Linked DNA regions of Homo sapiens. The protein of the gene in region 2 interacts with the protein of the main gene of each other region in a pairwise test. Each region holds a gene or a part of one and is shown on either strand. Other genes may lie near its edges.

Evidence for each region.
Region 1: the proteins of FAM135B (region 2) and DNALI1 interact in binary tests that used the Homo sapiens proteins (3 or more experiments, as listed by UniProt).
Region 3: the proteins of FAM135B (region 2) and NDUFS1 interact in binary tests that used the Homo sapiens proteins (3 or more experiments, as listed by UniProt).
Region 4: the proteins of FAM135B (region 2) and WFS1 interact in binary tests that used the Homo sapiens proteins (3 or more experiments, as listed by UniProt).

The regions. Positions count from the first base shown.
Region 1 is NC_000001.11:37,559,426-37,566,939, forward strand, and holds the end of DNALI1 (axonemal dynein light intermediate polypeptide 1), read left to right. Parts: coding exon 1-71; intron 72-2,131; coding exon 2,132-2,310; intron 2,311-2,655; coding exon 2,656-2,820; intron 2,821-5,600; coding exon 5,601-5,636; 3' UTR 5,637-7,429; downstream 7,430-7,514. Other genes in the region: GNL2 (nucleolar GTP-binding protein 2), read right to left, coding at 7,430-7,514. UniProt on the Homo sapiens protein: Involved in sperm flagellum assembly.
Region 2 is NC_000008.11:138,487,034-138,494,547, forward strand, and holds part of FAM135B (protein FAM135B), read right to left. Parts: intron 1-7,514.
Region 3 is NC_000002.12:206,142,257-206,149,770, forward strand, and holds part of NDUFS1 (NADH-ubiquinone oxidoreductase 75 kDa subunit, mitochondrial isoform 1 precursor), read right to left. Parts: intron 6,841-7,514; coding exon 6,764-6,840; intron 5,579-6,763; coding exon 5,497-5,578; intron 5,406-5,496; coding exon 5,275-5,405; intron 4,833-5,274; coding exon 4,647-4,832; intron 2,771-4,646; coding exon 2,636-2,770; intron 1,877-2,635; coding exon 1,762-1,876; intron 576-1,761; coding exon 430-575; intron 1-429.
Region 4 is NC_000004.12:6,293,850-6,300,849, reverse strand, and holds part of WFS1 (wolframin), read right to left. Parts: intron 5,810-7,000; coding exon 5,661-5,809; intron 194-5,660; coding exon 1-193. UniProt on the Homo sapiens protein: Participates in the regulation of cellular Ca(2+) homeostasis, at least partly, by modulating the filling state of the endoplasmic reticulum Ca(2+) store.

The DNA.
Region 1 (7,514 bases), on a different chromosome or scaffold from region 2:
GCTGCAGCAGCGGCAGGCCAGGGAAACAGGCATCTGCCCTGTCCGCAGGGAACTCTACTCACAGTGTTTTGGTGAGTGAGCCAGGTGAGGGGTGGGCACTACACACCCTACTGCTCCCTTCCCTTCACCTTCAGCACAGATCCAAGCCTGAGCACCTTGGAGCTGGAGCCCATCTCATGCTGGAATCCCCTCTTCTCCCCCTGCCTGACCCACCCAGCAACAGCTAACTGCCCCCTTCCCCTTCCCAGCTGAAGGGGGCCAGCCCCTCCACACCTGTGGGTATTTCTCCTCAGGCAGGAGGAGAGACTAAGAAAAGAAATAAGACACAGACAAAGTATAGAGAAAGAAAGGTGGGCCCAGGGGACCGGCACTCAGCATACGGAGGACCCGCACCGGCACTGGTCTCTGAGTTTCCTCAGTATTTATTGATTACTATTTTCACTATCTCAGCAAGAGGAATGTGGCAGGAGAGCAGGGTGATAGTGGGGAGAAGATCAGCAAGAAAACACGTGAGCAAAGGAATCTGTGTCACGAATAAGTTCAAGGGAAGGTACTATGCCTGGATGTGCACGTAGGCCGGATTTATGCTTCTCTCTACCCAGACATCTCAGTGGAGTAAAGAGTAACAGAGCAGCATTGCTGCCAACATGTCTCGCCTCCCGCCACAGGGCGTTTTTTCTCCTATCTCAGAACAAACGTACAATCAGGTTTTATACTGAGACATTCAGTTCCCAGGGGCAGGCAGAAGACAGAGGCCTTTCTCTTATCTCAACGGCAAGGGGCCTTCCTCTTTTACTAATCCTCCTCAGCACAGACCCTTCACGGGTGTCAGGCTGAGGGACGGTCAGGTCTTTCCCATCCCACCAGGCCATATTTCAGGCTATCACGTGGGGAGAAACCTTGGACAATACCTGGCTTTCCAGGGCAGAGATCCCTGCGGCTTTCTGCAGTGCATTGTGCCCCTGGTTTATCGAGAATGGAGAATGGCGATGACTTTTACCAAGCATGCTGCCTGTAAACATTTTGTTAACAAGGCACATCCTGCACAGCCGTAGATCCCTTAAACCTTGATTCCATACATCACATGTTTCTGTGAGCTCAAGGTTGGGGCAAAGTTACAGATTAACGGCATCTTAGGGCAAAGCAATTGTTCAGGGTACAGGTCAAAATGGAGTTTCTTGTGTCTTTCTTTTCAACGTAGACACAGTAACAGTCTGATCTCTCCTTCTTTTCCCTACACCAGCCCCGCCTCTTCTACAAGTCCTCCAGCTGCCAACCACTATATTCTTGGCAACTTGAGTTCCTCACCCCTTAGCAGATGTTTGGAGTAAAACGATAACTTCCATCTGTTTTTTCAAAGATTTTCTATAATAAGCATGTGCTAATTTTTTAGTCAGAAAGATTAATGTTCAGTATTTACATCCATCCATCCATCCATCAATATTTGGCCCTTGGTCCAGAAAAATATTGTGATTTGTTGTTAACCCACAGACACGAGAGATTTAAGATGCACCTCCTTGAGTGCTGGTGTCAAATGGCTGTCTCCCAGCCCAGTCTCATTGGCTCTTATGGACGCCGATCTGCAAACCACCTCCAAACCCTCAGGCAGCTGCAGGGTCTAGCAGGCTTCCCTATCCGTGTGTTATTATGGTTTGCCCTCCAGGTCAGCATTTATGGGGAGATAGATGGGCAAGCTCTAGACCCTGCCATTTCCCTCAAACCAGTGCAGCCAAGGGGGCACACAGGATGTCCCAGCTGCTTTAAAACAGCTGCCATCTTTAAACAGAAAAAGTCAGGTTTTTTCGAGTAGTAACCAGTTTTTACCTAAGGCAGGAAGGGAGGGGACCCAGTGCTGTAAACAAACCAGAGCCTCTTGTCTCCTTTGCTCTGGCCAACCCAGTCTTGCTGACTGTGCTACTCACAAGTGCCAAGTTCAGAGGAGTGACTGCATGGCAAGGCTCTTTGGGCCACTGAAGGCACCCTCCCTGAGGCCCTTCTCTGAGGCCTTGCACTTTGTCTCCAAGCGAGAACACCCTAATGTCCTTCCCAAGAGGAAGGGTGTTTGCAGTAGACATACTGCAAGCCCCCTCCCCACGCCCTGTCTGATCTCATGGTGTGTGTGCATTGGAAGATGAGTTGATCCGGGAGGTCACCATCAACTGTGCGGAGAGGGGGCTGCTGCTGCTGCGAGTCCGGGACGAGATCCGCATGACCATCGCTGCCTACCAGACCCTGTACGAGAGCAGCGTGGCGTTTGGCATGAGGAAGGCACTGCAGGCTGAGCAGGGGAAGTCAGACATGGAGAGGAAAGTGAGTGGGGTTTACCGTGACCCTTGGTCCCATCTCTTCTGTAAACCTCAGGGCCACATGCTTATCATTCCAGCACTACATTCTGACCTCCTAAGGTGCTCTGCTGACAGTCACGACACCTGGACTTGCATCACCTCAGTGAGGGACCCCTGGTTGAGTATGATGGCCAGCCTGGTGGTCTTGGCAGAGTTGTTTCCGCTGTAGACGCTCCATGCCAGGCACTGACCTCCCACTGGGTGGCAGTATATACCCTGGCAATGTCATGTCCCATGTCCCTTCCACCCAGGCTCACACCATTCCATTCACCTGGCGACATCCCAGGATGACTGGGCATTCTCTCCTCAGATCGCAGAATTGGAGACGGAAAAGAGAGACCTGGAGAGGCAAGTGAACGAGCAGAAGGCAAAATGTGAAGCCACTGAGAAGCGGGAGAGCGAGAGGCGGCAGGTGGAGGAGAAGAAGCACAATGAGGAGATTCAGTTCCTGAAGCGAACAAATCAGCAGCTGAAGGTAATCAACGCGCAGGGTGGGGTGGAGGTGCCCCCTGCCCTGCGACCCAGCCCCACAGGCCAGGCATTCGGTTCCTTTTCCATGGCTTTTAAATGTTTGTCCACATGCACTGCCAAAGGATAAAGGAAGCTGACTTTGGTGGTGGGAGAAGGGGAGGGCTCCAGAGGGGGTCTCTACTCTCAACTCCAAATCTCTGAGGCGCCTCAGCCTGGCTCTCCAGTGGAGGATTCTTCTCCCTGGAAAAAAGTTGCCCATCCTCAAGGAAGAGGTGGATATGGCAAAAAGTGGAACTCCATTCCCCTGGAAGCTGGTATGTTGGAGCCTTTCTGGAGGGGGCTGGGCTCCAGGTGGCTTGCGTGGTAGTGCCATCCCATGGCTGTCTCCTCTGAGGCCCTGTTTCAGGGCATAACCAGGGAAGAAGTCAAAGGGCAGCAGGGCCCTTTGAGAGGAAGAACCATTTCAAATCAGAAACCTTCCCCAGAAATGTGGTCGGGGAACCCAGGCACAGGTGCTCTTCCTCGAAGTCCGATGCCAGCAGTGGTCTTTTATCCAGCTGAGGTGATAGGAGGGAGGGGGCTGGTGGACAAAGCTGGGCAGGAGGCCATGCTACAGGCACTGCAACTCCCAGCTGTTTGGTCCAAAGGTCTCAAAAGGTAGGCCCTAGATCAACATCGTCCTCACCTGGCAAAGCAAGACAAATTATTGGGCCCACCCCAGATCTACCAAATCAGAAAATTCGGGGTTGGGGTCCAGCAATGTGCTTTAACAAGGTCTCAGGTGATTCTAATGTTTGCAGAAGTTTGAGCATCACTGTTCTGGAAAGATGGCCTACTGACATTTAGTGGCCTTCTCCCATGGCCCTGGCCAAAGGACCCTGGATGGATCTCCCTCTCCTCCCTAGGCTCAGATAGAAACCTTACAATCTTGACATTGCAGGCTTGTTTGGTCTACACACCAGCAGGACTGGCCATTTGCGATAAAGAAGGCTTTCTGTTAACCACTACTGGAACTTTTCTTGTTGCACAAAGAAAAGCAAGAAACTTTCACAGCCAGAGATGAATCTGTTTCCTTAGCAGCCTCTGAGGCTGCTTTCCTTAACTGCCATATTCCTTTTTCATAAGCCTGAGTTCCTCAGTTCTTCCTGGATTAGCAACAAGAGCAAACCAAATACCTTAGCATGTTTCTAACATTTAAAAGCAATCTTGTAATCTCCAGGGTGAAAGATTCTTTAGAAGTTGGCATTTTTAAATTTTTTTTCTTTTGAGACGGAGTTTTGCTCTTGTTGCCCAGGCTGGAGTGCAATGGCACCATCTCAACTCATTGCAACCTCTACCTCCCGGGTTGAAGTGATTCTCTTGCCTCAGCCTCCTGAGTAGCTGGGATTACAGGCATGTGCCAGCACGCCCGGCAAATTTCTGTATTTTGAATAGAGATGGGGTTTCACCATGTTGGCCAGGCTGGTCATGAACTCCTGACCTCACATGATCTGCCCACCTTGGCCTCCCAAAGTGCTGGAATTACAGGCTTGTAATACAGGAAGTGAGCTATTTTTATTGGCTCAAAACTGCATTGCAAATAAAGCAGCTTTGCTGTCCCCAGGATAGACCTACCTAAAGATCTGTCCAGTATTATTTTATTGGCTACCAGAGGAACATAGTAAATAACTCCCAAGTGTCTTAAGCTTTACATAAAGAGGGACAGCTCTCGGCTGGGTGTGGTAGCTCACACCTGTAATCCCAGCACTTTGGGAGGCCGAGGCAGGTGGATCACATGAGGTCAGGAGTTTGAGACCAGCCTGGCCAACGTGGTGAAACCCATTTCTACTAAAAATACAAAAAGTAGCTGGGCGTGGTGATGTGCATCTGTAATCCAAGCTACTCAGGAGGCTGAGGCAGGAGAATCACTTGAACCCGGGAGGTAGAGGTTGCAGTGAACCGATATCACACCATCACACTCCAGCCTGGGTGACAAGAGCAAAACTCCATTCCCCACCCCCACCCCCCAACAAAGAGGGACAGCTCTGTATTCACTGGCAGCATTTCTCTAATTGTGTGCCAAGTTGTCTCAGTGGCTGAAAATTCACTGTTTCCCAAACCTCTGGTCCCAGCAGAACTCCCAGGATCCTAAACCAGAGAGCCAATATTTTTTTTTTTTTGAGACGGAGTCTCCCTCTGTCACCCAGGCTGGAGTGCAGTGGCACGATCTTGGCTCACTGCAAGCCCCGCCTCCCAGGTTCATGCTATTCTCCTGCCTCAGCCTCTGGAGTAGCTGGGACTACAGACGCCTGCCACCACGCCCAACTAATTTTTGTATTTTTAGTAGAGACGGGGTTTCACCGTGTTATCCAGGATGGTCTGGATCTCCTGACCTCACGATCCGCCCGCCTCAGCCTCCCAAAGTGCTGGGATTACAGGAATGAGCCACTGCGCCCGGCCAGAGAGCCAAATGTTTAACTTAGCAGACATATTCTGGCCTGAAACCTGAGCCATGAAAAGCCCTTACAACAATGCATTCAATATCCTTTTCAATGCTTTATATCATACCCGGAGCCATTATTGTGTTGAAACCAGGACAGCTCTGGCTTCTCCTCATATACTAAAGACTGTATGCCAAGCTAGAAACTAGCTAATCTAGAAAATATGGATTTGGGGATCAAGGGGAAAAAGAACCCTTGGAGTGACAGCATGTGGATTCTTCTTCCCAGAGATTTGATCACCTCTCAGCTATTTGTATCAGGCTGCAAGTTTCAAGTATTAATGGAGCTTGTTTTTGTTTTTCAGGCCCAACTGGAAGGCATTATTGCACCAAAGAAGTGATAATTTCCACATGATTAATTTCCAACAAGACACTTGGGAGTTATTTACTGTGTTCCTCTGGCAGCCAATAAAATCATCATAAGCCCTTTGTAATAAAAAGCTAGTTTCCTGAGTGAACAAGCCATAACCTCCCCTAAACACCACCTAGGTATTTGTTAGAAGTCACACTATTACTCCAATGTCATCAGACACCTAAGGTCTGCCAGCCAGGCTCCTGGCTGGGCAATGGAAGATGGTGTGGCCCTGTTAGTCTCCGTGTGTGGCTTACTAGCCAGCCTTGGGAACTGCCAACTCAAATTCTAAGAAAGCCACTGCTTTCTCATCATCACTCTATACCAATACTTATTTCTGGCCAAATGAATCTGCTTCTCTGCCCCTCAAACTTTTAGTTCACAATTCATCTTCTACCTTAACTTGGGCTTCTTGGGCCTCTGGCCTTCCTTACTTAATGTCTTCTTTTCCCTACTCTAATGCATTTCTAACTCACTTTGGAGCTTTGGTTTTCTAATGTATTATCCCCACTTGCCAGTCAACTGGACCCCTTCCTCCTCGGTTTCAGACTGCCTACATTAGGAAACAATGGCAGTCAAACCCATGGCTTTGGAGAAAGTAAATGTTTGCCAGAAAGGAATACTAGTCACAGTGGCCTTTGTGAGTTGTCTGCAACTCAGCTCTTCCCCCAGCACAGATCTGTTCCCCTTATCCTGCAGAAAATCAAGCCCTGACTCTGCACTCCCCGAAGTAGTGATGTTAATTAACAACTGAAGAGGTAACTAAATCTCACATGCAGGTCTAATGACTAATAATTGGAGTACGGCTGCTAGACAACTGCATTTTAGTATTTCTCTTCCATTCTCCTGGTTTTGTAGACCCAGAAGATTGAATGAGTGACATAAATCTTTAGTTCGGGGCAAGCCAGGGTGGGCTAGGGTGGTAAGCTGGAGGACTTCATCCTTCAGTTAGGCTGCACAAGTAACATTACCTAAAAGGCACTAACATGCTCAGGTTCCCCAGAAAGAGGCGTAAGAAGGGCCTCTCCTTAGCAGAGCTTCCACCTGCCATCCGTCTTGGGTTCAGTGAGCTTCAAGGCTCACAATGGAAGCACTGTCATTTCCCCAGAAAAGCTGTGTTCCCTATGCTGAACACACCATACACATTCTCATCTGGAATCTAAGGAGCAGCTTTTACCCTGATCCAGTATCCTGAGGAATTTTAAGCCTCCACTCAAATGACCTGCCTGTGTTGTCATTTCCATGGGAAAGAACTCTTTCCACGAGATCTGCTAGTTCCAGGCCTCTAAGACAGGAACGTATGTGCCATAAGTGGGTCTACTTCACAGACTCAATGAGGCAGAAATTATTGTAGTTTTCTCCTATTTCTTCTGCACCCAACTTTCTCCTTGTATTTCAAAGGCCAGGCCATGTACACTAACGTCCTTGAAATTTGCAGTTCTGTATGCTTCTATTCCAAATCATTCATTACCAATAAAAACGAAATACCACCCTTTCCATTTTATAGACCTCATCCCCTATTTCTGTCAGACAGTTATATGACAGGGTGACTGTGGAACCTCTTAGTTCATCCAAAGTCTACCTGAAGTGCTAGACTTTCAGACTCTTATCACTGAAATCCTTAAGGTTGAGGAGGCTTTATTTCCCTAGCACTGGTGAAGGGCTTCAACTGTCAAACCTCAGAACAAATGCATTAGGGCCTTAGAAATGTCAATGGGGCAGGAAGAAAACACAATTTCTAACTGCCTGTTTTTGTATAATTTAATAAAAACCTTTTAAACATTACTGCTTTTGTCTGAATTTTTTGCGTTTGTGTTTCTGTCCCTCTGAGTCATTGGTCTTCTTTTTGTTCCTGTTCCTATTTTTC
Region 2 (7,514 bases):
TATACATGTGCCAGTTTTCAAACTGGAACAGTCCCTCTCAAAATGGTACAAGTTGATTACTCTAATCAGAACTTGGATTCAAACCAAAGTCTGCCTCACTCTAAAGGTTGCGATTTTCATTTACATGACCCTGTCTCACTAATACTCAGAAGACCTGCTGTTTTAGTTTTCACCAGAGAATACAATCACTTTGTGAAGTCCATGCAGGGACATCTGCAGGCTCCAAAGCAGCCCCATCCCACTTGCAGAAAAGGCATTCTTAGCTGGTCACGGAGGACTTAGGAGATCCATACCTTCCCGCCAGCCCCCATGGGACTACTTTTTTTTTTTCTGAGAAGAGTGGCTACAGATTTTATCAGATGCTCAAAGTGATCCGGGACTTAATTAAGGTTAAGAACAATTGTCTAAGAAAACATTGCTTTTATCTCTGGATTAAGCAGAACAGTGGGGTGCTGTACTTACATCTGATGCTTAATGTCTCAAGCAGAGCTGTTTCCCAGTAAATGGCCCAGCACCCACCCGTGCATTCACAGCAGCATGGTGGGTGGGAGCTGTCCACTGCATTCCTCAAACTACTCTCATCCAAGCCCTAGGTGTGTGTGGGGGTGGGGGCGGGGCAGGGGCTGGGCAGGGGTGGTACTTCTTTTCTGTTTCAACTGAAGTTTAAAACACACTTGTCACTTGTCAGCCAGGCACAGGGGCTCATGTCCATAATCCCAGCACTTTGGGAGGCCAAGGTGGGAGGATCACTTGAGGTCAGGAGTTCAAGACCAGCCTCGCCAACAAGGGGAAATCCCTTATCTACTAAAAATACAAAAAAATTAGCCAGGCGTGGTGGTGGGCACCTGGAATCCCAGCTACTGGGGAGGCCGAGGCAGGAGAATCGCTTGAACCCGGGAGGCAGAGGTTGCAGTGAGCTGAGATCGCACCACTGCACTCCAGCCTTGGAGACAGAGTGAGACTCTCTCTCAAAAAAAACAAAAAAAAAAGACGCCTGTCAGTGTCATCTGAGGAGATGGACAGGGGAGGTCATCCCTAGGGGGCAGGTGTCCAGCAGCAAGCAACCAGCCTACAAGGTGCCCCTGAACTGGAAGGCCACCTTCTGACCCAGGAACTGTAAATGGTGCTTAAATAGGGCTGCAGTTATTACTTTTTAAACGTAAAAGTATTATTTTATTATTGATGATTTCTGCATGTATCCTTCTATTTTTTGACAAACATTTATTGCACGCTAAATGGGTGTCAGGAACTATTCTAAGGGTTTTGTGCAGCTATGAGTACAGCAAAGTCCTTGCACCGGGGAGGTCACATCTTGCAGAGGAGATAATAGAAAACAAATAAACCGATGCATCTCTACTATTTCAGATAATGATATGATAATGAATTCTTTTGAGGAAAAAAAAAAAAGCAAGCTTGGTGGCTAGAGACTACACAGGGTTATTTAACTAGGTTGTCCAGAGACATCACTACAAAGAGGGGACTTAGGTGAGGAAAGGGAGTGAGCCACAGGAACATCAGGGGATGATCTGTCCCAACCAGCAGTGTAGACACAAAAGGAAAAATCCCTAAGGCCAGAGGAAGCCAGATAGTGTGCGTTTTTGTTTGTTTTTTTGTGTGTGAGTGTTTTTGTTTGATTTTTGTTTGTTGTTTGTGAGAGGGAGTCTCACTCTGTCGCCAGGCTGGAGTGCAGTGGTGCAATCTCGGCTCACTGCAACCTTCGCCTCCCAGGTTCAAGCAATTTTCCTGCCTCAGCTTCCCAAGTAGCTGGGACTACAGGCACGCACCACCACACCCAGCTAATTTTCGTATTTTTTGTAGAGATGGGGTTTCACCATGTTGGCCAGTATGGTCTCGAGGTCCTGACCTGGTGATCCGCCCGCCTCAGCCTCCCAAAGTACTGGGATTACAGGCGTGAGCCATCACGCCCGGCGTTTGTTTGATTTTTTGAATGAGCAGTAGTGTAGCCCTTGTGGGTCTAAAGGAACACCTTTGCTTCCTCTACCTCTATACTTCTCCTAGCCAATCACTGCTACTCCCAGGTTCTCAGTTATCATCTACGTGCTGAGGATTCCCTAAGTCTGTGTATTCCGCCAAACTCTTTTCTGAGTTTGATTGATATTGCCTAAAATGTATGTGGATGTCATCAGAGACCTGAAACTCCACGCATTCAAAACAGAACTCATCATTTCCTCCTGAAAACCTGTTCTTTCCCCTGTGTCCCCAGGCCAGTGAACAGCAGCAAAGCCAATCCATCAGACTAGGTCAGAAAATGGAGCATCATCCTGGAGCAGAGGTATTCTTCACTCTTGGACCCTGTATGTCAAGATTCTACTGACTGAATATTTCTCAAGTTGGTCCTCCTGTCTCCGTCTCTATTACCTTAACCTAGGTTTGGGCCATCTTTATGTCTAGGTACCCTAAATTTCCTGAAATAGACTCCCACCCAGTCTCCATGCCTCCTGTATAATTTACTTTTCTCCAATGCATTCTTTATATTGCAACCAGAATGGACCATTCCAAAATGCATGTTTGTATCTGTCATCTCCCAGTTTAAGATCTTTCCACCCCTCCCATTAGCTTCCAGATAAAGAATAAATCCATTCACAAAGTGTCCAAGGGCCTGCACACCCAGCCTCTACTCACCTCTCCAGCCTTTTAGCTTCCCACCCCTGTCTCAAGTTCTTCACCCACACTCTCTCTGAGCCCACACATCCTACTGCCTGCAATACTCTCTCAACCCCTGCTCTCCACCCTGGCTTTCTTCCATGTGAAACAGCTCCCCCGACTCCTTATCCCACGTTTATCTATGTAACTCCTACTTTCCATTCATGTCTCATATTCGATACCTCTTCCTCCAGGAAGCCCCTCGTGGCATTCCCAAGTGGGGTTAGGTGTCCTTCTCTGCTCTCAGGTCTTATCTCTATCATAGCTTTGCCACTGTATATTATAACTGCTTCTCTACTTGTTTGTCTTTTTTAGAAGTTATAAACTTCTTAAGCATATAAACATTATCTTCTTTATCTTGGCCCCCTTCAAGCTTCTATAACAGAGGATGGGGCATAATAGGCACTTTGGAAATAAAATTTTTGTTGACTGCCTTCATTTCACAATTGGGAAAAGAAGTCCAGGGAGGTTAAGTTCCTGCTTAAAGAACACAGCTAATTCATATCAGAGTTAACCCTAGAGTACCTGTATTCAAGTTTTGATCCAATTTTCTTTCAGATACCAGACTCCACATAAAAGATAAAACCTAGTTCTTAATCTCATAAGTACAGAGTCTAGGAGGGACTCAAGATCTAGACAAGAAAGCTACAGACTGCGAAGGTCAAGCCACAGGGTTGCACTGAGTGTTGGAGAGGAACACAGGGACCTGCAGGGCCCATCAGGAAAGTGAGCCTAGCCCTGGAGACATGGAAGAGGGCATGCCTGGTTGGGAGAACAGAGTGAGCCATGCTCAGACAGACAGACGGGTGGATAAGGGCCTTATCTGCCATCCTAGCAAGAGAACTTCCACCACAGGAACTTCCTGTCGAAACAGCTGCACCAGGAAGACACTCCCACAAAGGAAGCCTACACCACTCTGCCTCTAGATTATCCATATGCAAAGAGTTCATCCCACCACTACCTCCCTCCAGCTACCTGGGATGACACTCACCTCTTCTCTTCACTCTCCTTGCCCATCTTCCCCATAATAACTGAAAACTAAAGACTGTAAGTTGCAGTTATTCTAAGTAACTGAGAATATGACTTAGAGAATATGACGTCACTTCAACGTCTGCTAAATATAATGAAATTAAAGAAAAAACTCTAGAAGAGAAAGAAAAATAGGCCAGGCGCGGTGGATCATGCCTGTAATCCCAGAAATTTGGGGGGCCGAGGCGGGTGGATCACTTGAGGTCAAGAGTTCGAGACCAGCCTGACCAACGTGGTGAAACTCTGTCTCTACTAAAAATCAAAATTAGCTGGGCATGGTGGCACATGCCTGTAATCCCGGATACTTGGGAGGCTGAGGCAGGAGAATCGCTTCAACCCAGGAAGTGGAGGTTGCAGTGAGCCGAGATCGTGCCATTGCACTCCCAGCCTAGGCAACAAGAGCGAAACTCTCTCTCAAAAAAAAAAAAAAAAAGAAAGAAAGAAAGAAAGACAAGAAAAGAAAAATATTTCCTATATCACAAAGCCCAACAACAAAAGCTATATCATCAATTAAAACATAGGGCAAGACTTTAAAGAATGGGGTGGAAAGAATATGTCTAAAGTGACAAAGAAAGTGAACAGCAGAACTCAACCAGGCCCACACCCTCCAGTGTCTAGCTGGAGACCCCTCTAACAATAAATCTATAGTTTTCCGTGTCCCAAGAAATGTTTCATAAGAAATTTGATCTTGGTAGTCTTGCTATCCAATTGCCTAGTAATGCCTGGAATATTGCAGCTATGTAGGAAATAGTCACTTAATTCTAACCCACAATTTGGAACATGTCATTGTTTCTCCCTCAATCGTTTCCTCATTTTCTAATTCCCAGTCAATGCTGGGACCAGCATCTACTCTGGCACGGAGGCAATCCTACGTTCACTCATTCATTCATTCATTCATTCATTCAGCAAACATTTACTGAGTGCATATTATATGAGAGGATTTGTTCTACCAGTGGGAGTTCAACAGTGAACTACGTAATATATTGATAAGTACTATAAAGAAAGAAACATCAAAATAAGAGACTGTCATTGTAGAAGTAGGTGGTAAGGGTGGGCTAATGATATGCTAAGGTGACATTTGAGTTGCAGCCAGAATAAAGTAGGGACACCCAGTGATTACCAGGGAGAAGAATGTCCCAGGAGGAGGGAGTAGCATGTGCTGCTGAAGATCAGCCAGGAGGCCAGGGTGGGTAGAGGTGAGTGGCTGTGGAGGAGACCAGGTCACAAGGTGGTGAGCCGGGTTGGAACAGGGGCTGAATGTCGTGTAGGTTGCAGGTCATGGGAAATGCTTCAGATTTTACTCTGAGTTAGAAAACCACAAAAGGGCTTTGAGCAAAGAGTTTAATCTGATTTTAGTTTTATAAAGATCTCTCTGGCTGCCTTGTGCACAGTAGACACTGGGAAGCAGAATAGAGGCAGGGACATCAATTCAGAGCCTGGTTTATTAGTCCTTGCCTTCTTCTCTCACGGTGGGAGGATGGAAAGAAAGCCTGAGTATCAACCATGACCCCTCCTTCCTCTTGACCTATCAATGGTCAAAGGTCCCTAGAATGTCTCACTGATATTTTTGTGAGATAGGAAGCAATCTGTTCATTTCTCTGATACCTTCCTTCTGTTCCTCTCTACTATTCCTTCTCACACTATTTCTTCTCTGTCCTTCTCTTTTTCCCACCTCTCATTACCTGAAGTCAAGCATCTCTGCAGAGCCTCCTAAGAGGCCATAAAATCTTTGTTGGATCTCGCTAACCTGGCCTCTATCACAGCTGGGGAGAGCATCCTGCCCAGGTCTAGACCTTTCTGTGACTTCCTATGGCCTTCTGTTAGAGGAAAAGACTGGCTTGCAAAACTCTCAAACGTGTAACCCTACCATCTCCCAAGCCTCAACGGACACCACCTCACCCCTTGGCCTCTTGTTCCAGCCCTGCGGTTCCTTTCTCTTCCTTGCTACTTCTTGTCTCCAAGTCTCTGCATGTTGCTCTCCCTTTCTGATTGCCCTTCCCTCAGGTCTGCATGTGGAGATTCCTTCAGACTCAGCTTAGACTCTCTCTCCTTTAAGAAGGCATCCTTGACAGCCACCACCTAGGAAATATGTCGGAGGCTCCTCTTTGTTCCCGCAGACCCCCGGCATTGCCTGGTTTGTTCTTGCCGATTTCCATGCCTGATCCCCCAACTACATATTAAGCTCTTGAAAGGCAAGGACCTTGTGTTGTCTACAGTTGATTCTCAGAGTCTGGCATGATGAGTGACGCAGGGCAGGCTACTTATGCAAATGCCCTGTACCAGGCACATCACAGCACCACTCCATCCACACCGGAGGTGGAGGGAGGGCCACAGATCCCAGGCTCACAGTGCCACTTTCCTTTGTGATGCTAAAATCTCCCTCACGAGTCACTCCTGAGATGGGTGTGCAGCCACCTAGAAATTATTCATGTTTGAGCAGAAACATTTGACGTTTCTGAGCACCCAGTGTCTGGATAGCTCAGCAGATATTAGCGATGTCCGTGAATCTCTGCCAGCTCTCTCAGGTAAGATCAGACTTGAATCTGAATCTAAATCTTTAGGTCATTCTGCTCCCTCCTGGTGTCTCCCATGTGTAACCAAAGGAGGTTCTTGGTGGTTGGGACCATGACCATCTTCTTAGTTCTTCTTCTCTTGTAGAACTGTAGGTGAAATACAGGGAGGAGACTCATTTGGGGCATTTCAAAAAATTCTGGAACCCTCTATTATTGGCAATTACATCTATCATTTGCAAATTACAGATATTACGTATTGAGTGCCTGGCATGGCATTTTTCTTTCTGTGCATTTGCCTATCTATCTTGAAAGGTGGCTATCATTACAATGCTATGCAGATAAGGCAGATGGCTGGGGGAGCAAAATGATTTACTGAAGGTCACACAGAGCTAGTAAGTGAAGGAGCCAGCATTTGAAGCCCATGTGATGCTGTGAAATTAGACAAGGATTTTGCTCATTTTCTAGGACGAAAATTAAGGAAAAGAACAAATTTACTTAGAGTATTAATATTTTACAGTTAATGAACTACTTTTATGGCACAGCTATTAATTCGCTCCAAAACTCGACATCCCTGTGAGATGGGTATTCACATCCACACTTTATGAATGAGGAAACTGAGGCACAAGACAATCAAGTGCACTAGTTCCAGGTACCCTGAAAACTGAGATTAAATCTAGGCTATCTTAATCCAATGCTTGTGCTTTTTTACTATACTGGAGCTGAAATCAAGGAAAGAAATTGAAGCGAGAAAAAGATATTTCAAGTTTAAAATATTCCATCAGATGTTTTCAGCAAATGTTACATGAAGGCCATTCAACACCAGATTTCAGTTATCCTAAAGTGCCCACTTGAAAAAAAATGAGCATTTTAAAGCAAAATATGTGCTTCTGTTCTCCTTCACTTTGCCTCAGTGGGTTGACCCTAAATAATGCACAACAAGCCATGGAGCATCCTCCAGGCTTGCCACACAGACCGAGATGGCAAAAGCAGCCAGGAATGGCCTTTCTGCAGCCTACGTCTGCACAGGTGGTCATGTTAGAAGTAAGGCTCATTCACTCATTCAACAACCATTCATCATGGCCATGGCTGCACCAGGTGCTGCAGCCACAACCAAAGTCAGATAGGGAGAGGCACCTATCATTGGGAAGCATCAAATCAACAGAAAGGACAGGTATGTGTGCAAGCGATGACACAGCACAGTCCATCACAAAGGAGGTCCAGAGTGTTGTGGGAGCACATGAGAGAATATGGGAAAGCTTCCTATAGGAAGGGGCATTTGAGTTGGGTTGTTAAAGGAAGAAAGAAGTG
Region 3 (7,514 bases), on a different chromosome or scaffold from region 2:
CGCTGGAATGCAGTGGCGTGATCCTGGCTCACTGCAACCTCCACCTCCCAGGTTCAAGCAATTCTCCTGCCTCAGCCTCCCAAGTAGCTGGAATTACAGGCGCACACCACCACGTCTGGCTAATTTTTTTGTATTTTTAGTAGAGACGGGGTTTCGCCATGTTGGCCAGGCTGGTCTCAAACTCCTGCACTTAGGCGATCTGCCTGCCTTGGCCTCCCAGAGTGCTGGGATTACAGGCGTGAGCCACTGTGCCTGAGATACTTAGTGATAAGTGGATTCCTCTATTTCCTACAACTTCTGGTTTGATCTTGGTCTATATATGAAAATAAACTGGGGGATATGTTGGAGAATCCAGGTTGTCACATTTTATACATAACTTGTAACTAAAAAAAGAAAGGAAAGCCTAGATCCTAGCTTCATATTTCTCACCCAGCTCCTGCAGTGGGGAAGACCTCTTCAGTGCATAAGGTGTCAGAGTCCACTCTATTAAGCAAATCTTTGAGAGCTACCAGGGCTTCAGCATCCACCAAGCCACCTGCAATTGCTGCCACATCTTTGCCTTGAAAACTCTGCAACTAGAAACAGATGAAAAGGGCATCACCAAGAAACCTACACGCAGCAAAGACCACAATGAAATGTTCAGAAAATAAAACAGTACTTGTTTTCAAGTACAAAAAAAGTTAACAGACTTCTGATTAAAAGTTTTACAACATGCCCAGGCACACTGGCTCATGCCTGTAATCCCAGTACTTTGGGAGGCAGAAGTGGGCGGATCACCTGCAGTCAGGACTTTAAGACCAGCCTAGCCAACATGGTGAAATCCCATCTCTACTAATAATACAAAAATCAGCTGGGCATGGTGGCATACGCCTGTATCCCCAGCTGCTCGGGAGGATGAGGCAGGAGAACTGCTTGAACCAAGGAGGCAGAGGCTGCAGTGACCCGAGATCGAGATCGCGCCACCGCACTCCAGCCTGGGCGACAACAGCAAAACTCCATCTCAAAAACACAAAAAAAGTTGTACAACAATTATTAATTAATCTAAAAGTGAAAAGCTGCAGAGGTGTTATGTGGGGCCACAGCTAATAACATCAACTTAGAAGGAAGCTGTTTTATATTTAGGAACAAAGGCACTTCAAAATGAGGTCTGGAGAATGAAGTGGAACTATAGTTACCTTAAATGCGACCTCCTCTGAAGTATCTGCCTTTCCCTCTAGTGCTTTATGTTGTCTTTCTCTAACAAGAAAACTATTCCCTCCACTTGTACTCTGGCAAGCTTATATTCATTCTCAGATTCTTCTTTAAGAATCACCTTCTGTAGGAAGGCAGCTTTTTTTTTTTTTGAGATGGAGTCTCGCTGTGTCACCCAGACTGGAGTGCAGTGGTGCGATCTCGGCTCACTGCAACCTCCAAGGAAGGCATCTTGATATGCCTGTCCTAGTTAGGCATTCCTCCTACGTGCTCTCACTCATATTACTCCTTATATAATTACTCATAGCTGCATATAATAATTGCTGAATTGTGCAACTTTCTCTACTACAAGATTGTAGGATGCAGGAATGATGTGTCTCTGGTCTTTATATCCCTTAATAGCATAATATCTAGCATATGTCCTCAGTAGATGTCTGTAAAATGGAAGGAGATTAAATCATAATCTTGGTAAAAGTAAAAAAGGGAAGAAATATACATCCCCCCCTTCATGGCAAAGATGTTTCTTGATAATCACAAACACTATTTAACACTATTTATTTCAAATTTTACCATTCCAGCTACGCGAGAGAGCGCATCCTCCCAAGAAGTATAGGTTAAAAGCCCTTTTTCATTTCTGACCATTGGCTCGGTAAGTCTTTGACGTTTTAGCCCATCATAGGCAAATCTAGAAAACAGAAATTACACCATTGTGGAATCTTGCTAAAGAAGTAACTATAATTTTCAAGTTAAATCAACAAGAAATGTTATTTAAATACAGTACTGGTTAAAGTGTCAAATATCTAAACACCTAGATACAAGTAATTATTCCAGATATTTTTAGAGATGAACTAATAGATTTTATGAACTTCACCTAAAACTAAAATACCATCTGAAAGTTTGATTTCTTCCCTTAAATCATACAAAAAAAAGTTTGATTTCTTATACTTTCAGCTAACTGAACAATCTTAAAATTACAACACAAAAAAATCTGACAGCTAAAAAAGTCAAATCATTTTTATTTACAAAGCATGAGTATCTCTAAATATTTTATCAAAATTATATTGTGCAAACTCTTCTATTCAGCTTCTTTTTCAAGCAATCATCCCACCTCGGCCTTCCAAAGTGCTGGGATTACAGGTGTGAGTCACTGCGCCCAGCCTAGCTTCTTTTCTCTAATGAACAAACTGAAATAAGTTGAGAATGTATCAATCTACTTGAATTTCTCCATGTGGGAGGAAAAAATATCTTTCTCAAAGTAAATACAATATCCAGGGATTGACCTAGGACTATTAAAGTCAGTATTATCACATTATATAAGCAACTCAGATTCCAGTAGTCTATATTCAGTAACTAATTTGCAAATATAAAAGATAATTCTTCAAAATTATTATAAAATTTCCTTTAAATAAACTGTAAAAGTTAAGGAAAACAATATAGCATATACCTGGTTTTATCAGAGATCCACTCTTCATTGATGTCCTCATGCATACGTGGCAAAATCCTCATCACTTCTCCAGTTCTTGTGCTAACCACAATATTACTTCCAACCGCATCCATTACATCAATGGATTCTGTCTTTCTGAGAAACACATACGGTGTTTACTATGGTGCTTTTGGGAATAAAGAAAGTTTCTGTTACCTGGTTTACCAAAAAATTTTTTTTACAATTAATTCCCTTTCTGAATTACTTTAAAAAATGAAGCTTAGAGGAACTGCAATTAAATAAAAGAACCCCCCACCTTTTTTTTTGCCCTGGGGTCTCACTCTGTTGCCCAGGCTACAGTGGCATGATCATAATTCACTGCAGCCTAGAACTCCTGGGCTCAAACTATCCTCTCACCACATTTTAAAAATTTTTTGTAGAGCCGGTGTCTCATTATGCTGACCAGGCTGGTCTTGAACTACTGGTCTCAAGCAATCCTCCCACCTTGGCCTCCTAAAAGCTGGGATTATAGGTGTGAGCCACTGCTCCCGGCACACCCACATTTGAACACATAAATTCCTGGCACAGTAAGGAAGGCTTTAAAACTATTATCTGACACAGAAGCTAGTTTGAAGGGGCTCCAACTAGCCAAATCTGGGACGATTCAACAAGAGGGGCAGGATTTCTGTCTATGGGAGATTAAGGAGCTCAAAAAACCTTCCCACTGAAAAGCAAAAGTAAAGCTGGCCAAAAATGACAAAACCCACCATTTCAGCAGTTTAGAAATCTAAACACATACAATGTGGGAAGCTTTTATGCACTGAAAAACTGGTGGCTGGGCTCAGTGCTCCTCCTATGCTCCTCTCCACCCCCTCAAAATGGAATTTCTTCGAGGCCGGGGCAGGCTGTGAAGATGAGAACTTCTTTGGTACAGATGGAGACAACTCACTTAACTTGGAGCACGAGGCAAACTTGTTTGTGGAGGTGATACTTTGGAGGTCATCGTAGCTGAGGATAGCCAAGATTTTACCAGCCTAAGTTTGTAGTGGTAATTGCGGCAAGCATTCCTAACAGAGGCTGCTACATGTGCAGGTGAAACCAGAGAAAGCTCAACCTATTCATAAACTCCTGGATAACTCTGAGACCCAAAGGGCCCAGTGCAAAGTAATAGCTGGGCAAACTTGAAAACAGCCTCAACTTTGAATATGCTCCTCCATCCACAAACAGATCCATTGGCAAAGAACATAACTCTTATTAGGTCACGGTGTTTGAAGTACAATTATACCTGACTACTAAACTATGCAGACACAGGGGAACTCCTAAGAAGCCTCACTTAAAAATAAAACCAAGAATATTAAAATATGTTGAAAGAACCAAAGAAAATCATATTTAAAAATTGAAGGGGATGTATGACAACCACGAATCAGCAAGTAGAGATTCTCAGTAAGGACACAGAAATTACACAGAAACAAAAAGCCAAATCCCAAGTTGAAAAGTATAAAGTTTAAAATTGGATGATAATTTGTTATGTTTTAAGAACCTTAAAAATAATCACACCTCTTGCATCTATCTACTCCATTTCTTGGTTTAATCAGGAGAATGAGAGATATACACAGAAATGTGTAAACAGCAATATTTTTTACAGATTTGTAATCATAAAGAAATATACAAGCTAAATGTCTATTAGCAGAAACTGGCTAAATGACATTCCTCATAGTTGAAAACTTAATAAACAACAACATGGGAGACTATACATTTAAAATGTCAACACTATTAAACTCTTTGGAAGAACACATGAAAAAAATAATTTTGTGGTTGAGTACTTTAGAATTAATTTCCAAGAAAACTACAGTTAATTTGCACAGGTTCAATCCATTCTAACTACTTACCTTCTATTTAAAGGGTTTTACATAAACAAACAAAGTCAACAGACCAAAACAACTGAAACCCAGGAAGAAAATGAACCTTAATATTTTTTTGAATAGTAATGAATTAAGGACAAAAAAACAAATTGTCATAAAATAAAAGATACCTTGTTTCCCAAGGCCGGGCAGTAAAGGCATAGGGCTTAGAGGTTAGGGCACCTACAGGGCAGATATCAATGATATTCCCAGACAGTTCAGACATGAACATCTTTTCAATGTATGTGCCAACTTGCATATCATTTCCTCTGCCTGTTGTTCCCAAATCATCTACTCCTGCAATCTCACTTGCAAACCTACAAGATAAAAAATGTGTCATCAATGGTCAAGTCCAGCAAAATTATTTCCTTTCTTATTCATGATCACAAAGAGATGATTTTCCAAACACTAAAAAGAAATGAGTATATTTTTAAAGGTGAGCACAGTCCTAGAATAAAAAATAATGAAATGTTTGCATTTAATTGAGGTGTAACACACAGGCAGAAACTTGTACAAATCATATGTGTACAACTCACCAAGTTATGAGTGAAAGCAAATGCTTATAGATTTTAATTTTTAAATCCACCTGAAGTTGGTACTAAATGAAAGTGAACTTATTTTATTCATATATCAGAAACAGCATCCCTCTTCTCCCACCCAAAAAAAGTAGCCATTCTTTCCAATGTTATTATTCATCAAATTGTGACTATTAAGTATACAATTATATTCTATAATAGAAAAAAAAGGAAAAAAAGTTACCTGATGCAGCGAGTACACTGTATACATCTTGTCATGATGGTCTTTACCAATGGCCCAATGTTCTTGTCTTCCACAGCACGCTTCCCCTCTAAAAATCGGCTCCTATCATTTCCAAACATCATGGACTGGTCCTTAAGTAGATTATGAAAGAGTCAATCTCATGCTGCTAATAAAATTAAAATCTGAGACAACCAAAAAGATTGACAGAATTCTACTACATACCTGCAGATCACATTCACCTCCCTGGTCACAAATAGGACAGTCCAATGGGTGATTTGCTAATAAGAACTCCATCACACCTTCCCTGTATGAAAATTGTAACATATAAAATGACTCTCAAATACACACACACTGACATTAACTGCTGGCACTCAAAATGACCTATAGACTTTATTTTTTTTTTTTGAGATGGTGTCTCGCTCTGTTGCTCAGGCTGCAGTGCAGTGGCACAATCTTGGCTCACTGCAGCCTCCTGCCTCCACCTCTCAGGTTCAAGCGATTCTCTTGCCTCAGCCTCCCGAGTATCTAGGATTACAGATGCCCACCACCACACCTGGCTAATTTTTGTATTTTTAGTAGAGGCAGGGTTTCATCATGTTGGTCAGGCTGGTCTCGAACTCCTGACCTCAAGTGATCCTCCCGCCCTGGCGTCCCAAAGTGCTAGAATTACAGGCGTGAGCCACTGTGCCAGGCCCACATATAGGCCATTTAAACAACCTTCATAGATGTATATTTGTTATACAATTAATAGTAATTTTACATTTAATATCAGAAATGCCAATTATCTATCATTGTGGTAATATTTTTTTTAAGAGACGGGGTCTTGCTATGTTGCCCAGGCTGGACTCGAGCTCCTGGGCTCAAGTGATCCTCCCGAGTATCATTCTGGTAGTATTAAACACACAATCTGGAAAATGCTTAGAGGAGCCTAGAATAAAGTATCATTAGAGAACATAGAAAATTATGATTTTTGGTCAGGTTTGGTGGCTCACGTCTGTAATCCCAGAACTATGGGAGGGAGGCTGAGGCAGGATGATCACCTGAGGCCAGGAGTTCAAGCCCAGCCTGGACAACATAGTGAGACCTCGTTTCAAAAAATAAAGAAAATTGTAACTTTTAACAATACCGAATGATCAAAAGTTGCTGAATGGTCCTCAGAAAATATTCACATTAATTCAAAATAAAAACAAACACAATCAATCCCAGTATAGTATAGTAGTAGCTTAGTAAGTCCAGATTCACCCTTCTTCACAAGTTGAGCAAGTTACTAAAGAAGGATTTTTAATGCTGATCCTAAAGCTCAATACCATAAACTCCTGACTTCACCTTCTCTACTATGTAGTACTCACTTCTATTGCTCCTAGAAGCTGAGCACACCAACTTCTTCCGAGTTTGATATTAAATTCTTAATCTATGGGAAGGTCTAAATACCAAAATGTGCAATTTTCTGCTTTATGAAAGGGTACTACATTGAATAACAATAAAGTACCTGGCTTTTTTGGATTTTTCTGAGTTTGTTAGGATATTCCAACCCTTCATTACTGGCATGGCACAAGCAGCTACAACCTGGGATTTCAATGAAAAAAAAAAATGTGTATTTGTATTTATTTGTGATTACAAGCAACTCAATATATAAAAATGTTAAATTATATAAAAACATTAAATTATACATTTGATAACAGGCAAAGAATAGGGTATTTTTTAAAACTGAATTTTGTTAAGTTTTCATATTCATAATACGATGATCTAGTACTTTGCATTTATCTCAGAAATAAAACATCCTGGTTTTTAGGTTTATTCTAATAGTCAATGCAATTTTTTATTCTGCTCTGAAACAGAACACCAAATAACTGCTTTGATTAGCAGGCACTATTGAATAAAAAAATTGCATACACCAAAATGAAATTAAACTACTGAAAGTGAACTTCTTCCCTGCAACCCTTTTCTCTACTAAAAATGGCAGGGCGTCAGCACTTTTAATGTGCTACTTGGCAACTCTACATCCTGGTTATATATTATACAGCCATTTGGAAATACTGACAACTATAAATCACCTTTAATTTCTAGATATGTTACAATTATATGACATGTGTTTGTAAAGCACTTCTATCTATGTGTTTCCAGTTTTGAAATGAAGAGAATCAATTGTACAAAAGAATTAAATTTATAGATAGAAGTAAAGAGGGCTAGGTTCTCCACTACGATATTGATTCTAAATAAAGTTTGCTGCAAGATTTAAA
Region 4 (7,000 bases), on a different chromosome or scaffold from region 2:
GGTAGAAGATGACCAGCGGGATGAAGAAGGCGAAGAAGTCGATGGTGAGGTTGCTGACGATGAAGAAGAAGATGAGCGCGTTGATGTGGTGCGTGGGGATGATGGTGGACAGCCAGTGCATGCCTGCCCTGGAGGCCATGTCAATCAGGTACTCCTTGATCTCCATGATGGCGTGCAGGGGGTACTTGACCACCTGGGGGAAAGATGGTACGTGGGAACGAGGCTGGGACAGGACCCCCACTGCTCCCATCTCACGCCTCCCTCTGACCACCCTGCCTCTGGGCAAAAGGAACCCGCACCCTTGCGTTTTCCCATCACCAGCCCCATCCTAGTGGTCCTCCCTCCCCCCTTCTCCAGGTGGCCCTCCCCATGCTCGCGGTCCCTGTGAGCCCTCCCTCTTCTGGGCCTGGAGCCCCCCTCTGCCCCGTGCCTGGCTCCCCACCTTCTACCAGCGTGACTAGATGCATGTGTGCTTCTCTCCCTGCAAGACCTCCAGCACTGGAGGGACCCACGGGCTCCCCACTTCCCTCCCCTCAGGGTCACCCACATGAAGAGATGACGGAGCCCTGAGATGCCTGTCTGGGAGCTGGTTTTGTGACCCAGCTCTGCACTACAGCAAGGATGTCACCTCCCTGAGCCTCCATGAAGGGAAATGGCGATCCTTACGAGGAGGAGAAGCCGCAGGCAGTCCCCGGAGGGGTGGCAGAGCAAGCATTAGGGAAAGGGAGTTCAGTGCAGACACAGGCAGAGGGCCCAGCACCACTCTCCCAGCAAAAATACCGTTCAGCTGCACGGGGCTGCCGGGTGAGCTGCCCTCCCTATGGCCGGAGACCCTGAGAAGCAGCTGCCAGGCCACCTTCTGCCCGTACACACACGTGCACACACACACACGCAACCCACCCCTACACACACGCATTCACACAAACCCACCCCATACACACACACACAACCCACCCCTACACACACACATGCAGCCCACCCCTACACACACGCATTCACACAACCCACCCCTATACACATTCACACACACGCAACCTACCCGCATTCAAACAACCCACCCCTACACACACATTCACACACACGCAACCCACCCCTACACACACACACGCAACCTACCCGCATTCACACAACCCACCCCTACACACACATTCACACACACGCAACCTACCCGCAAACAACCCACCCCTACACACACATTCACACACACGCAACCCACCCCTACACACACACGCAACCTACCTGCATTCAAACCCACCCCTACACACACATTCACACACACGCAACCCACCCCTACACACACATTCACACAACCCACCCCTATACACATTCACACACACGCAACCCACCCCTACACACACGTGCACACCCACCCCCACACGTGCACCCTCACACATGCACACCCACCCCTACACGTGTGCACCTACACATACACACCAGCGCACCCCTACCTCCCCATAGTCAAGGCCAAAGGCTGCCTTCCCCCGACCTGTGGGTCCTGCTCCCCTGCTCTGCATGCAGCGCTAAGGTCAGAAAGAGCTCTTGGCCTTCACCACAGCCAAGAGGAGCAGAGGGCTGAGGGAGGCATGCTGGGAGCAGCCTCAGGATGGGGTGAAGCAGCGCTGCCACCCAGGGCCAGCCCTCATGCCTTCCTGGTCTGTGCAGAACTCAGAGGCCCTGAGCCCTGCCAGAACACAGGGCAGCCAGGCAGAGGGACTGGAGGGGATGGGGGACAAAGTGGCCATGGTGCCAGTGCTCACACAGCATGGCGTGGCATACAAAGCAGGTTCTGTGCATCTTCAGAAGTGCCAGGGGCCTGGACCAACACCAGGAAGTGGACGCCTAGGGGGCGGCCCCACATGGGGGTAGGGAAGCCTGGCTGCATGTCCAGGGCCCACTGAGGGGCTACATGACACATCCAGGCTGGAGCCCCCCATCAGCTCCGGGCCTCGGGGAAGCACCAGACCCCACAAATCCCCTGGGGCAGGTTCTCTCCACCAGGCCCACCAGAAGGCCAAGGAGGGATCCCAGGTGAATGGCAACTAGGTGACAACACCAGAATGTGGCCCTCACCTGCCAACAGCCTGGCTATCAGCTCTGGAGGACCAGGACACCTGGAAACAACCAGAAGACTGAGTCTTCCACAGATGAGAGGAGAGGGGCAGGCTCATGGAGGAAACGGAAGTGTTATGAGTGTGTGCATGCATGTCTACACAGACTGAGCCTTCCACAGATGAGAAGGACAGGCTCATGGAAGAAACGGAAGTGTTTAGGAGTGTGTGCATGCACGTCTACACGTGGGGGAACAGCTCTGCTGCTTCATGTATATTTGTGACAGTCCACTTAATCTCTGTTTTATAACAAGCAAATAAACGATTAAAGCAGCTAACAGCTCCCCTAGCTCTCTCTGGGGTCAACAACCTTCTACATGAGCAGAGAGGCGCTCACACTGCCAGGAGATGGCCAGGGAAGACCAGGCACTACAGGGTTTGAGGGCATTTCCAACGCTTGCCAGAGAGCCAGAGGGCATTTATGAAAACCAACCTACTCCAGGGTTTGTTTGGGGCAAGCCCCTGTAGTATGACGCCAGGCCAGCTGGCTAAAATCAACAGCTACACGAGTCAACATGTGCGTCAGCCGGCAGGCTGCTCAGTTAATCCCCGTATGGGGGCCTTGCGAACAGCAGGACAACTAAAGGTGGCCTGGCCCGCCACTGCTCACCACCAGTTTCACGCACGACCGCCACGGTAGCAAGGGGGTGGCCTTGGTAAAAATAAATCTGAAATCCTGTCTTACTCAAAGCCATGCACATTCTTTTGCCTAGAACACACACAACCACCTGGTTGAGAGGGCCTTTAAAAGACAAGGAATATTCTAGAACATTACGTTGGATGGCGTCTAGCCTCTGCTTGGACAGTGTGGAGGGGCTGGTCCCCCACCTGAACTCGATGACCAGGGAACGATCCCCTTTTTAAAGCCCCAATTTCTGCTCCCTGCAATGTACACCCAAGACCTTCCTCTGACATGGGATTAAAAAGTTCAGTCTCCTTTTCTGCAAAGAAGGTCCAAACAAATTCAACTCCTGAGATGGAAAAAGAACGAAACTTAAAAACTATGAGGAGTCTGCCTCTATGAATAGAACACTGCAGAGCTCTCTGTCTGGGCCTGTGGTGATCGGCCCTTCTGCTGCCACGAGAAACCAGGAAGCAGCGTCACCACACCGATGGCCCAGCGGACCCGTGAAGAAGGCAGGCTGGGGAAGGGAGCCGAGACGAGATTCTGCTCAAACCTGTGGGCAAAAATGTTCCCGTGTCGGATCTTCCAATTATGTAATGTTAAAAATGTTACGATTTTAAGATATTAAGTTTGTTTTCAGAGGATTCTATCTACGATGACAGCTTGCACCTCCAGGCTCCAGAAGAGAACTGTGTGGAGTCTGGAACATTCTTTGTGGGAGTAAGGGTGGCTCACAAAGAGGTGTCTGTCATTTTCACTTTGAGTGAAGACCTCTCCTTGTTCTACAAAAGGCTACTAAAAGGTGGGACAGCTCTCAGCCCTGGGAGACGCTTGTGACGATTCATTGCCTCCCTCACAAGAGACTTCTAAGAAGACAAACTGCAAAGGAATCGAAGTGCTCTGACAGCATCCAAAACTAAAGGGAAACAGAGTCTTGTTTACTTCTTGTCAAAACAGCTTAAATCTCTCCCTTCTAAAAAGGACTTTCAGGCTGGATACAGTGTCTCACGCCTGAATCCCAGCAGTGTGGGAGGCCAAAGTGGGAGGCTCGCTTGACCCAGGAGTTTGAGACCAGCGTAGATAACAATAGTGAGACCCCCATCGCTACAAAATGTTTTCAAAAAAATCAGCTGGGTGTGGTGGCACATGCCTGTAGTCCAGCTATTTGGGAGGCTGAGGTGGGAGGATCACTTGAGTTTGGCACGTTGAGGCTGCAGTGAGCTGTGACCGTGCCACTGCACTCCAGCCTGTGCAACAGAACGAGACCCTGTCATTAAGTAACATAAATAAATAGGATTTTCAGATGCTACACAACACTAGACTCACCATCCATAACTAGGTGACATAATTTTCCGAACAGGACGCATATGCAAGGAGGCATTATTATAATAGTACTTACACCAGATGGCATAAACTGGGACACCTGGGCCATGGCCGCCTGGCCCAAGGGTCTTCTCCAAGTTAACCCGTTCACCTGTGACCCTCACTCTCATTTCGGGAGTGTCTTTGCCAAAACCATGCCAGCACCCCAGCTTCCTCATCTCCCATTAGTAAGGAGATGATGGCACCCAATCTGTGAATATGCTTGCCTAGGGCCAGCTCTGAGCAGACCATCAGTAAAAACCATGTGCTCCCTTGGTTCAAGTTCTTGGCCATCCTGGCCCATGTCTCAGAACCTCTGCAGACCGGTCGGTGTCATACCCTGGACATACAGCCTGTCCCAAGTGGGAGGAGCAGAGCCTTCCACCTGCCACCCTAAAGGACTCGCAGCTCTGGGCACTCGGGGGGCTCACACTCAGACCTGTCTGGCTCCGAGTCCCTGCAGCAGGGCTGCTGTGCCTGCTGCTCTTTGGGCTGAAGCTGCTCCTGCAGCACCTGGGTTCCTGCTCTTCCCCCCCACCGGAGGGCGGGCCTACTCTGACCTTCTCCCTGGCTCGAGGACGGTGACCTTTCAGCCTGCTGCCTGCCTGACAGTTGGTGGCCCAACCATCTCCTGGTCCTGGCCCTGACTCACGCGCCCATCTGAATACAATGATGGCAGTTCCTCCAGGTTCTCAGTCAGTTCAGAAGACAGAACCCCAGGGTGCCTGCATGATACTGCCCGCAGCCTCTGTGACAATCATCTGCTGGGGCCCCCTGTGCTGGCCTCAGCTTGGGGATCCTGGGTCAGGAGGCCAAGCTTCTGGAAATCCTGGTGTTCTCTGCAGAGTGAGACAGGCACACATCTAATTCAACCATGCGAGCTGAACTGTGAGCAACTCTGTGAGAGGCCATAGGGCCACATGGCCAAGAAAACAAGCTGTCAGGCCAGGAGTAGGGCCCGCACTGCTGGGCTTCCCGCTCCCCGCTCCCCGCTTTCCTCCTGCCGCCAAAGCTGCTCATGTCCTCCAGGTGTGCCCAATGGCACCCTGCACAAGTGTCACCCACCACGCTCCCACACTGGCCTCGCTCCCTGAGCCCTTGCAGATCCAGGGGCAGTAGGCGCCTCTGCACGTCCTCCCTGGCCTGACGGACACGGCACTTTGTTTTCGGGGAAGGCATCTTCAAGGCACTGGCCTCCACTCTGGACCATACATGGAGAAATCTGCTAAGTGATGAAGTCTAGATGAAAGTCTGCGTCCAGCCCGCCCCACTGCCCCCTACACTGCACAGAAAGACCCAGGGGCCCCTTGCTTGCCATCCTAGCACTCCTGCCCAACACCGCCCCTGGTTTCTGAGCCTGACGGCGCAGAAAAGAAAGGCCTCTCTCCCGAGGACACATCCTTATGACGATAGATGATGACCCAAAGGTACCAGCGGCACGGCTGTAAGACACTCTTTGTTAGGCGCGAACCTCCCCACCTGCAGCTTCCTGGAAGGTGCCCTGCCTGAGGTGCGCGAGTCCTTGGGAGGCAGGCTCCGGCCTGACCGGGGTCTTGGTCACTCACCTTCAGACGCAGTGGCAGGTCCTCAGGGCTCTTCCCCGCCAGCTCGTCATCATCTTCGTCGTCCTGCAGGAACAGGCTGCTGGGGATGACGCCCTTGGCGTACTTCTTAGTGATCTCCACAAAGTCATCCAGCGCGATGTAGTTCTTGGCTGAAGCATGAGAGAAAACAGCATGGGCGCCCCACACTGCAGCCCCACTGCCACCCTCACACAGAGCAATGGGCTGGGGACGGTGGCGTGGGGCCAAGCTAAGAAAGGAGCTGAGTGGGTTCAGGTGGAGGAAACCCTTCCCTGGGCGGCCTGAGGGTTGAGGACCAGGCTGGGTGAGGAGGAAGGGGGCAGGTTTGCCAAGTGCCAGCCTCCACTCCTGGCCCCCGGCCCCTGGGTGTGCTGTCCCCCACCCCAAGTGTCCCTCTCTGCCTAGCTCCTTATGCCTGGGGCCACTCACCCACACCTTTCACCCAGTTCACCTGCCAAGCCTTACAACATGCACCTCCAGTGCATGCTGACACCCTCCTCTTCAGCCAGCGTGGGGCTTCTCACAGCACGGGTGACAAGCCGCCCTGTAGGGCAGTACCCTGCCAACCGCTCCATCGAACATGATCTGCGCCCCCAACCCCTCCATTCAACGTGATCCACCCAGGGCCTACTGTGCACCTGCTAAACCGCTCCATCCAACATGATCTGCCACACACCTACTATGTGCCTGCTGACACCTCCATCCAACAAGTGTCTGCCATGGGCCTACTACATGCCTGCTAACCCGTCCATTCAACATGCGTCCTGCCATGGGCCGACTTACCCCTCCATCCAACATCTTCCACCAAGAGCCTGCTACGTGCCCACTGATCCCTCCATCCAACGTGATCCGCGAGAGCTACGTGCCCACTGACCCCTCTATCCAACATGATCCCCTAGGAGGGAATGAGGCCCCTGAAGGACCCCAGTTGCCGTGGTGAGATGGTGACCAGGAGGGCCTCCAGGGGAAGGATGGGAAAGAAAGGACCATGCTGGGGCAGGGCAGAGGGAGACAAGCCAGGGTGCTGCAGAAACCCTAGGGAGGAGGCAGGCTGCATCCAAGATGGCAGCCGTGATAGTGGGCGCTGACAGACCTCCTAATGGATCAGCTGTGTGTGCAAGAGGAGAGGAGTCGGGGCAGCACCCAGGTGTAGCTGCAGCAAAGAGATGAGGCAGCCTTGGGGGGGCCCACACAAGTGGCAGGTAGCACAGGCCTCAGTAGCTCACTGTAGACTGAGCTGTGAGGTGACCATGGGACAGCCAGGTACAGGAGATGTGGAAGGAGCACGGGCTGGATGCAGCCTGGGCGGGCTGGGGGCTTGC